2 separate regions of the Homo sapiens genome follow, and region 2 is linked to region 1. Evidence: fine-mapped expression QTL. Tissue or cell type: lung. Region 1 holds a variant in brackets; the other region holds the start of a gene. All regions are shown on one strand. Distances are from middle to middle.

Evidence for each region. PIP is the estimated chance that this variant, and not a neighbour inherited with it, causes the effect.
Region 2: PDPN starts here. The variant in region 1 is fine-mapped to the expression of PDPN in lung (TOPMed, PIP above 0.99).

The regions. Positions count from the first base shown.
Region 1 is chr1:13,615,308-13,620,533 of GRCh38, reverse strand. It overlaps PDPN (podoplanin), which reads right to left. Exons shown (of 6, transcript NM_006474.5): 6 at 2,577-4,629. The coding sequence ends at 4,623. Among named protein-coding and RNA genes, the nearest start is that of PDPN, 34 kb to the right of the region's middle. The variant A/G (reference allele first, on the strand shown) is at 2,461.
Region 2 is chr1:13,581,064-13,586,289 of GRCh38, reverse strand. It overlaps PDPN (podoplanin), which reads right to left and starts at 2,458. Exons shown (of 6, transcript NM_006474.5): 1 at 2,190-2,458. The coding sequence starts at 2,256. RefSeq lists an enhancer at 2,017-2,555.

The DNA of each region.
Region 1 (5,226 bases):
GGGAGTGTCTTTTGTTTCTGGATCTTGCTGGACAAGAATCCTACTCCCTTTCCAGTGAGCCCTGGGCCATCCACAGATCCAGCCTCACCTACAGATGCTCTGTGGAAGGGTGGGAACAGGAGCAACAGGAAGGGGTCCACCTCCTGCTTCGGTCAGGACACCTGCACACCTTCCTGAGGTTACATGCGGAGGACCGTAAGCTCATTTATTCAAACAAATATTTCAGACGACCTCTTTGACTACTTCAGCAGCATCCAGAGGGAAGCCGTCACTTCAGAAACATTTGCTGATCGCCCTGGTATGTGACCAGCACGTGATTGTTTTCTCAAAAATTTGCATCAGTGGAAAGGCAGAGGCAGCAGTAGAGAAGGAGGTAGGAAAGAAAAAATGGGAGGAGGAGCAAGGTCTCAGAACCACGCATAGGACTGTCTGTACTATGGCCCGGAGCCCTTGGATGTAGAAATAGAACACGCTGTGCTTTGAGTCAGCATCTGATAAAATAATCTCAGAGTAAGAAACAGTGCTGAGGAATAGTGTTTAGTGCTTTCAGGCTGGCTTTGCCTGTACCAGGTACGTACCTGCATGCTGGGCCCCTGAGCCAAAAAAACTCCCATTCACACCAGTGAGTGTGATTTTAGACTCATTCTGCATTGTTGACCAATAACCACACTTACATCATTTATATTTACTGAGTTGAAAAATCCAGGATCTATTATATGTTCTAACCCGATTTTAAGCTTCAGGAAGAGCAAAGAAAAAGGCAATGTTTCAGGGAACAAGTCCTCCAGCGCACACAAGGGGATGACTCTATTTTTAGTGCATGTGTTAACATGCAGCTATATTTTGGGGAGGATTCTTTTTCCACTTCCAATGGACTTTTAATTGGCAAAAGTTTTAATATCAAAACGTGCACCATTCCCCAATCGAAGCATGTCACAAACTGCCCCATGCCCTGAATACTAAATAAATCTGAATTAAAATAAAAATAGAGACAGCAAAGGGATTAACAGTTCCTTGCTCTTTCCTATTCATGAAAGCCAAGCCTTGAAGGTGGCCCATGAAGCAGAACTAAGCCCTGGTTTTTCAACTGGTTTTCCCAGGTTGAGGGGAAAAAGTAGGGGTTAAAAACAAGGCCTTTATATCATGCAAAGAGCTAACCTCAGCACCCCCTGCTCCCAGATGTCTCTGATAGAGCTGTTTCCCTAAACTTTCAGAACCCTGGCAGCTCCCCCAGTTTCCAGTCATCTCCTGGGGGTGGCATGTAATGGAATGTAAATTTACATGTAACATAGTTGAGGGTCCGTTCTCTTTCAATCTGTTGGACTAGGTAGACGTGGTTAGTTTCCTGCTAGAAAAGGGATGCTTTCTGACATCTCATGAAAGTTCTTAGAAGAAACTGCAGCCCAAAGAAGTTAAATGACTTCCCTGAAGGGTTACAGGTGTGGAGGAGCAGAACAGGACTAGAACCCTGGTCCATTTTTTAAGAGATGGGGCTCTCACTTTGTTGCCCAGGCTGGCCTTGAACTCCTGGCTTAAACGATCCTCCCACCTCAGCCTCCCAAACAGCTGGAACTACAGGCATACAATATGGTTCCTTGTTTGGAACTCAAATGGGCACCCAGGATTACTGACAACGGACAAATTCAACAGTCCTAATTTAACAATATTGAATATTTATTTCGAGGAAGTCATGGGGCTAACTGCTCTCCCGCTCCTAGCACCTGATCCTTACGCTGGCAGGGAAGGGACCCGCATCAGGAGGATAAATCCACATGGAGTGGTGCGGTGGGGTCGGGAGGAGGAGATCTGCAGCACCCACCCAGGAGCTGGCCAGGGCAATCTCCAGACAGAGTCGGGGTGAGCAAGGAACCGTGGGGCGTCCCCCAGCAACAGGGATTCACCTCTCCTGAGGTGAGGTTTCTAGGGAGGACTAGCAGGGGCAAGATGAAATTGCCCCCTCACCTGGTTTTACCCTCCAGTGCTGAGAAATTAATCAGGTGGCTGGGCACAGTGGCTCACACCTGTAATCCCAGCACTTTCGGAGGCCGAGGCAGGGAGAGATCACGAGGTCAGGAGATCAAGACCATCCTGGCCAATGTGGTGAAACCCCGTCTCTACTAAAAATACAAAAATTAGGTGGGTGTGGTGGTGCACGCCTATAGTCCCAGCTACTTGGGAGGCTGAGACAGAATTGCTTGGGCCCAGGAAGTGGAGGCTGCAGTGAGCCGAGATCGCGCCACTGCACTCCAGCCTGGGCGACAGAGCGAGACTCCATCTCAAAACAAAACAGAAAAAATCAGGGAAAACCTCATTAACCCTTTGGGACCAGAGAGGGAGAGAGCCCCCAGGTGCCACGTGTCTCCCATGCCCATGCTTCTACTTGACCTCTCTACTTTGGCAGACCTAGCTGAAAGGTGTAGGTGTGTTTTCCTCCTGTGGAATTCATTCCCCTGGCCATCT[A/G]TAATCCACTCTCAAGCAAGGCAACAGGCAGGCATTTACCTAAGTTGTAATCTTATCTGGAGATGTTCCCAAGTGTGGCCCAGACTTGTGTTTTCCAACAAAAGTCTGACTCATTGTTGTACACAATCATTTGTTTTATTTGAAAACATGTCTACACTGCATTGAGCACCAACACAGGTGTGACCAAGAAACCCACAGTCCTGTCCCCGCAGGCACTGGGTCCAGTGTATGACTTGGGGTGGACTGTTATTTTTCACAGTGAGGGGGGAAGAAAGGATAGGAAAGAAAAGATGGCCATTATCCCAACTCCTGTTCAGGAATCTGAACAATGAGTTATTTAAACTCATCCAGCTCTTCTCATTCCCCTTCTCTCAATCAGCTGGTGTTCAAATATGGAATCTGAGGCCGAGCGCAGTGGCACACGCCTGTAATCCCAGCACTTTGGGAGGCCGAGGCGGGCAGATCACGAGGTCAAGAGATAGAGATCATCCTCGCCGATACGGTGAAACCCCATCTCTACTAAAAATACAAAAATTGGCCGGGTGTGGTGGTAGGAACCTGTAGTCCCAGCTACTCAGGAGGCTGAGGCAGGAGAATTGCTTTTTGACATCCTGACACATGTATAATTGCCGGGAGGCAGAGTTGCAGACTACGTTTCACACACACACACAAAAAAAATGGAATCTGAGCTGGTGGGGCCAGCTGGATTTGGGAACACACAGACACACTGTTTAAAATAACATCCAGACATCATTGCAAAAAATGGGAGGAATGGGCTGTGCTTCCGAATGATAGTTTACTTTTTCCTGTTTTATGAATGCTTACAAATTTAGAGGATACCAGAATTGCACAACCGCCATCATGACAGAGCATCTGCTCAGTGTAAAAACTTTGTTTAGGAAAAAAAAAAAAAAATCCAATGGATATATGGGAAGAGAAGTGCCAGGCTGGATGGTGCTGAGACAGAATGACCCCTTGGGCTCCTTTATTTTGTTCTTTTCAACAGGACCCCACAGATATTTGCGGTATGTCATGAGGACTGGGGATGTCTTCTATTTTTAAATCAGGTATTTAGTCAAGCTGCTTTTAATATTAAGACTGTACAAATTGATTTTTGTTCCCTGTATCTTTCCTCAGAGGCAGAAAGTGAATGTTATAAAACTGGCAGATTTTATTTCTCATACCAGAGGCTCACACAGGATTTCTTTCTGCATGGGGGACAACTGGCTCTTGGTTTCAAACACACTTGAGCCTCTAGCACCATTAAGCATCCAGCAGCTTCCTCGGCATCCAGGCTGAGATATCCATATTCCAGAACAAAGCAGCCAATGTGAAGGATGTGCATCACTGGGAAGAGAGAAGGCTGCCCCCTTAGCCCTGGCTCCTCATCATCTGAGGGAAGTGGAGGGGGCAGGTGGGAGCAAGCTTAGAGTCACCAAGTCATGGCTGGAGAAGGATTTGGGTAAAGCAACTCTAGAGGCTGCCTGGTGGCCTACTTGGGAGAAACAAAGTGCCTTTGAGACTATCGACTTCCTGCTTGTGATCTAAAATGGATGTCTTTGAAATGATTAATCTGGACCAGCTAAAGGCAGTTGTTCACCACGTGTTATCCAAGTTTAGATTTCCTAGTTGATTATTCACACCAGATCAGGCTTTAAAAGATAGACCAAACTAGACCAGAATGTGTACATTTCAGCAGATCAGCAATTGCAAAATGCTGGTGCTATTTACTGACGTAGCACTGGATCCAAGGACTCCGTGGATATAAATATTTCCAGATTCCTCTGCATTTTAACAATAACAAGAATGGTCAGACGGAGACACATGGTTACAGCATATAATATCGATCCAATGGTCCAGTGTTAGTTACAAATCAGTTTATACAGTTTTGCTCCATTTTCTATGAATTTTGTCTTTCAAATAATCTTTTATAGAATGTATATTCAAAAACATGTTTGAACAGCAAATGTTTAGAGGAGCCAAGTCTGGTGAACGGTCTTTCCTTCGGTTATTTTGGCAAGCGGAGAGGTCACCGTGGATTCTGAGTGGGCCAGGCAAGTGTTCCACGGGTCATCTTCTCCCACGAGCTCAGGGACAGGGCACAGAGTCAGAAACGGTCTTTTTTTAAGCACGTTGGCAGCAGGGCGTAACCCTTCAGCTCTTTAGGGCCTGTGAAAATAGAGAAGGGTGACGGTCGTGTCTCTTACTGGCATTGTGAATAGTAACTCCGTGAGTCCTTTTTCCTATTGTCCTTTGCTCTAAATCTTCCAAGTTCTGACACCTGGTGATCATCTCTTGTTCCTGACATTCCTCCTCCATGCCTTCGTCCTCACACAGCAGGGTCAAACTGCCTGGCTTTTCCAAACACGCTAAGTCCACAGCTGTGTTGTCCCCTGTATCCCTCAACCCTCCAGGTGTTTATCACTTGTCCTCTCCCCTCCCTTCCATCATATATCATCCCTCCAACTCATATAAGAAAAAGGTTTTTGGCTGGGTGCGGTGGCTCATGCCTGTAATCACAGCATTTTGGGAGGCTGAGGTGGGTGGATCACGAGGTCAGGAGATTGAGACCATCCTGGCCAACATGGTGAAACCCTATCTCTACTAAAAAATACAAAAAATTAGCCAGGTGTGGTGGTGCATGCCTGTAGTCCCAGCTACTTGAGAGGCGGAGGCAGGGGAATCGCTTGAACCTGGGAGTCAGAGGTTGCAGTGAGCCGAGATCGCACTACTCCATCCAGCCTGGTGACAGAGCAAGACTGTCTC
Region 2 (5,226 bases), 34 kb after region 1:
ACAACTCATGAGGATTTCAGGGCCTCCAAACTGGCAAGCGTTTCGGGGAAATCACAGGGAAATTTGTTGGCCGCATGATTAATCCTGGGTGGATTGGTCCCGGAAAAGCACATGTGGGTTAGCAGCGAGCAGCAGCTTGCAGAATCTCACAAAATAAACTCTCTAATGAAGTGGCCCCCAAAACGTGCCTTCCTGATGAAAGTTCAGCATGAGGGTGGCGCCTGACAATGGAAAAAAATGCCAGATGTGTGGACAACAGACCTCCTTTGAATCCACTAACACCCAAAGGGATGACACATGGGACCAGATTATAAAACTGAACCAGATTATAACCCTGGAGGAGGGAAACCCAGTAGGGCGTAGGATCTTATGAAAAGGATCATAAAATTCATCACCATAATTACCCCCCAGCCCAGCTCCCCAACAAAAGCCCACAATAGCTTCGCTCAATGATGTTATTCATCCATATTCAAGTCGCCTCGCTCATTATTCTCAGACAAAAACCCTGCTGGGCCTCTGCTCCTCTGGCAGCCAGGCAACTCAGCACCCACCCTCACTCAGCCAGCCCCGCATACCACTTCTTTCTTTAGTAGTGGAGTTTCCAGCACCAACGATGGTTTTTCGGTTTTAACGCCATCTTTTAGGAGTACCTTTGACATTCAGGAGCCGGCTGAAGGGAATCACAGCTAAAGCTTCCCTGGGCAAAAACAAAGGATGTTACCCAGCAGCTTTTTCTTTAGCAGGGCTGAGATGCTGAAGTGAGGGCGCTCCCTTGCTTTGCCCTGGTGAGCACAAAACGGTGTCATTTGCACATTGTCTCGCCAAAAAGGAAATGTAACTGAAAATACAGAACTGTATATATTCCAGTGGAAAGAGAAGTTCCAAAGATAGGACTGCTACGAATAACCCACGGCCCCTATAAAAAGAGTTGCTCAGTCCCTTTGAAGCAGACAGCACAGCATAGAGCAGAACTCTGTCATTTCCCTGAGATTGGGTATTTTTGTCTGTGTGGACCATTGTAGGAGGCCAGGTTAGGCGCACCCCTCCTGCAAACCGCTCCCTCTCCAAGAAGTATTCCTCAGGGCCTAGGCCTACCTTGATCCTCAATTTTTGGAAAATGTTTACTTTTCACAGCATAACTCAGCAACCTCCAGCCCCAAAGATCACGAGTTAGGTTACAATTCCTTCAACCAACATTTAGTGAGCAACTACTATGTGCCAGGCATTGTTTTGGCCGTGGGGAATCATGGCTGGATGTAGCTGCGTCCTGCAGAACATATGTTCTATTGAGGAAATATAAAAATAAAAACCCAAGAAAAGAAAACAAAATGTTGACAGATGTCAATGGAGACCACCAACACAGCAACCCAGCGGGAAGAGGTAAGGCTCCAGGAGAGGACAAAGGGTAATGGAAGCTGTGGACGCCCCCACCCCAACATGGGATACAAAATATTTAAAGCCTAAGGAGTCACCAACAGACATTCAGCCACTGATGTTGTTGCCCAAGATGAACACGTGGCTCAAACCCACTTAAACCTCAATGTTCGTAACGCGTAACAATCCTCATGCACTCACACTCCTCGGAAGCCTCCACTTGGATCCTTTCCACACACACTATCCTCTCTAAAGAGGATAAAGGAGGCCTCTTCCAGTCCAGTGACGGGGTGCTGAGTGTGTCCAACAGGCAGGGCGCCAGACTAGGTAGTCCCAAGGGGGACCAGGGCCACCGCAGGGCGGGGAACCCTCCCCTTGGCCCAAGCCCTCCTGAACGTCCCTCCTGATTCTACGAGGCCAGCTTCTCCCGAGGCGTGCGTATTCCTCCAACACACCGCTCTATGGGAAGGAAACCCCAGCCACTGCTGCCAGCAAGCGGGGCTGCCTACTGTGAACCTTCCACCCGATCTCTCTGGTGCTGCCGACTCGGAGGGAGGCCCCCTGTGCTGCCCACCTCGCAGCCTGTGGATTCCGGGGCTCCTCCCGGCACACCCGCGCAGCTGCGTCTTTGGGACCTGGCACCGACTAAGCCGCTGCCTCTCCTCCTCCGGCGCTCAGCCGCCTGACACGCACACACCCTCAGCTCCCCCGCGCTCCCCTGGACAACCTCGAATACCAGGCCCGGGCATTCCAGCAAGTCTCTGCTCGCTCGTCCCCATCAGCGACGGCAGGAAGCCACTTGCGCTGGGTCTTACCTCCTTCTGCCAGGACCCAGAGCGACGCGCTTCCCAAAACGAAGAGCAGAGCTGACACCTTCCACATCGTTCCCGTTGAGTTGTTGCTCTCCTGGGGGCCGAGCAGCAAGATTCTGAGCTGGGGGAAAATTAAAAAGCACCGCGGCCACAGGCCCAGCCTGGAGGAGCGCGACGGTGGGGGGGCCGGAGGGGTGGGAGCAGGAGCCCCGGAGAGGGAGGGTGCCCGAGCTTCCCAGACCCTAGGCAGCCGGACAGCAAACTTTGCAGTTGAGAACTTTCCGAGCGGAGTCAGCATTTATCTCTCCCGAGGAGGCGGGGGAGCGGGGTCGGCCGCAAGGTGGTCTCCGTCCGGGCGCGCTAGGCCCGCCCTCGGGCTCTGTTTGGCCGGCGCCAAAACGATGATCTCAGGCCAGGTTTAAAGTTACAGGGCCGCAGCTGCGGGGGCCGCCAGGACTGCGGGCCCTGGCAAAATGGGCTTTTATTCTGCTCAACAACAGGAGGGAAAGGGACCACATGCAACAAACGGGGTTTTAAAAATTATATATAAATTTTAAAAAACCTATATTTATTATTATTATTTTTTTAAGAGTAAGGCACAAGTCTATGTTTTTCTTGTTATGGGCAGAAGTGAGAAGTAAACTGTTTCTTGAGTGGCCAGTAGTTTTAGAACCAAGCATGGGGTTTTTCCTGTAAATATTGAATTTGATGGCTTAAAAACAAAAAAAGTTGGCCGTCATCTGGGTGGGCCAGAGGCGGCCCGCGCTGGTCAATTGCGCCCTTGTCCCGGGGACCGGAGCGGGCGGGCTCCGGGGGGCTGCCCCAGAGCTGGCTGGTGGGGGAGTTTGGCAGACCGGGTGGCTTTGGCAGTTTTGAAAAAGAGGCTGAACTCCATCCGCCTCTGCCGACCCGGGGATCCAGCGCTGCGATGCTGTGGCCCACCGACGTGCGCAGTTGGATTAGGCCGGGCCAAGCGGTGACCCGTCTGGTCGCCAAACCTGTGTCCCCTTCCAGGCCTGGTTCACCCTCTTTATTCCTGAGTTTGCTCCCATAATCCTCACTTTACTGGTTTAAGCGATCTTGCCTTGATCTCAGGTACCAGATATCAGCAACCAGAGAACTTACGTCTTTTACTTTAATTCCTTCTGAATTGCTGGAATTTAAAAAAATAAGAACAGGAGTTTGGGAAGTGGTCTCTGCTCCACTCCCAGATGCCACAAATTCCATTCAACAAAAGAACCTGAAGACTAACGCTGTCTCAAAGCTCCACATTGCGTGAAAATTGTTTTCAGATGCTTATCTTTGACCCCTCCCCATTATAAATTTACTTTCTAAGAATCACAGGAGAGATTGTTTTAAATAAATGCCCAGTTTCCTGGGTTCCACCCCAAACTCATTAATCAGACCTTTTCGGAATTCCTATTTTAAACCAGTGTCGCTGGAGAACTTGTCCCCATGAACATTTGGCAAACCTTGCCCTTCATCATAGCTTCTCAGCCAGATCTACCTGGGGCACTGGTTATGCAGGTGCAATTCTGTTGTGGGATAGGGAGAGATTCTGCATTTCTAAAGATCTCCCAGGTAACGTCTTGTCCTGGGGCTACAAACAGGAGCTGAGCACCTGAACCTAGAAGATGAGGGGTAGCGGCAACACCCCTAGAGCCAAGGAGTTGGAAATGTAAAGAGAAAACTCGTGATACAGATACTCTTTCTTGAACTGACTTCCCCATCTTGGAGATGCATTTTATGACTCTAGTGTCAATAATGTCTGTTGACAGGAGGAATAGTGCATTGTCTGTTGAGCCTGTTAGATGGAGAATAGATGCACATCTATTCTGCTTATGTGTAACTCCAAGGTCACACACAGAAAGAAAGATGGCCCGCTTTATTCAAAAAGATTGAAACACAGTGAAGCCTAGGTGGGGGAGATTGGGTTACATGCAACTAATTTAGAGGGATGCTGAGGCTAGGTCATGATTCAAGGACACCTGCCTTCTATCCCACACCCCCGGATGTGTCTAGAATCTAGAAGGTTGGTCACATGACCTTTTGATCAGGATGGAGGAGTGGGAGGTAATAAGGAATTGCATTCAGCTGGGGGTCCTGGGGTGGGGAGAGGGGCCAGGATGAAGGAGTTAGTGGATCGGCTCTGGGTGCTGTTGGTCTGAAAACCTAGAGAGAAAAGCTGGGTCTTGGGAGGGGGAACCTGAAGACCAGAGGGAAGAAAGAACTCACCCTCCTGGACCAGATAGAGCCAGCAGCTCATGAGAGAAGGAATATGGGCCTTGGGCAGCGAGACTCGGTTAGCTAAAGGAGCTGAAGTGAAACACAGGGGATCTGGAAGCATGAGACCCTGCTCAGCTGAGGGGAAGAGGGAAAGAAGGAGGGTATGTGGCTCCATTCTTGGCAAACAGCTTAAGCTCAGAAAGCCATGGCCATGAATGATGATGCGTTACTGGTGAGATAACAGCAGCTGCTACATACTGGCCTTTATCTTCCTGCCAGGAACACGCACTATTTCCTTTCAGCCCCAAAACAACGGTTGGCTTCCAAACATTGATGATACCCATTTCCTACACAAGTGAGGTTGAGAGTGGATTCACCTGGAGGGCTTGCTTGCCTGGAAGGCAAGACTGCTGGGCTCCACTGCCAAAGTGCTGATTCAATAGGTAAGGGGTGGGGCCCAAGAATTTGCATTTCCAACAAGTTCCCAGGTGATGCTGAAGCTACTGGTCCTGGGTCCCCACTTTGAGGACTGTGGGTTTAGAGGCCACCATGCAAATTGTGTGGGATCCTACAAGGTAGGAGCGGTGGGGTCATGCATTTCCATTGCAGAGCAGGAGTTGAGCCTGTTACTAGCACTGTGCCTGTGCCTTGCAGGACTGTGTGGGAAACGTCTGTAAATTGCTTTTAGGAAGCAAGAGGACCCCCAAAAGGTGTGGACCAGCAGTGGAATGAGGAGCTGAGCCAGAGCTGCCAGTTTGGTACCTTCCACCCTGGGGGATGCTGGAGATGACACATCAGGGTCTCCTCAAGCTCT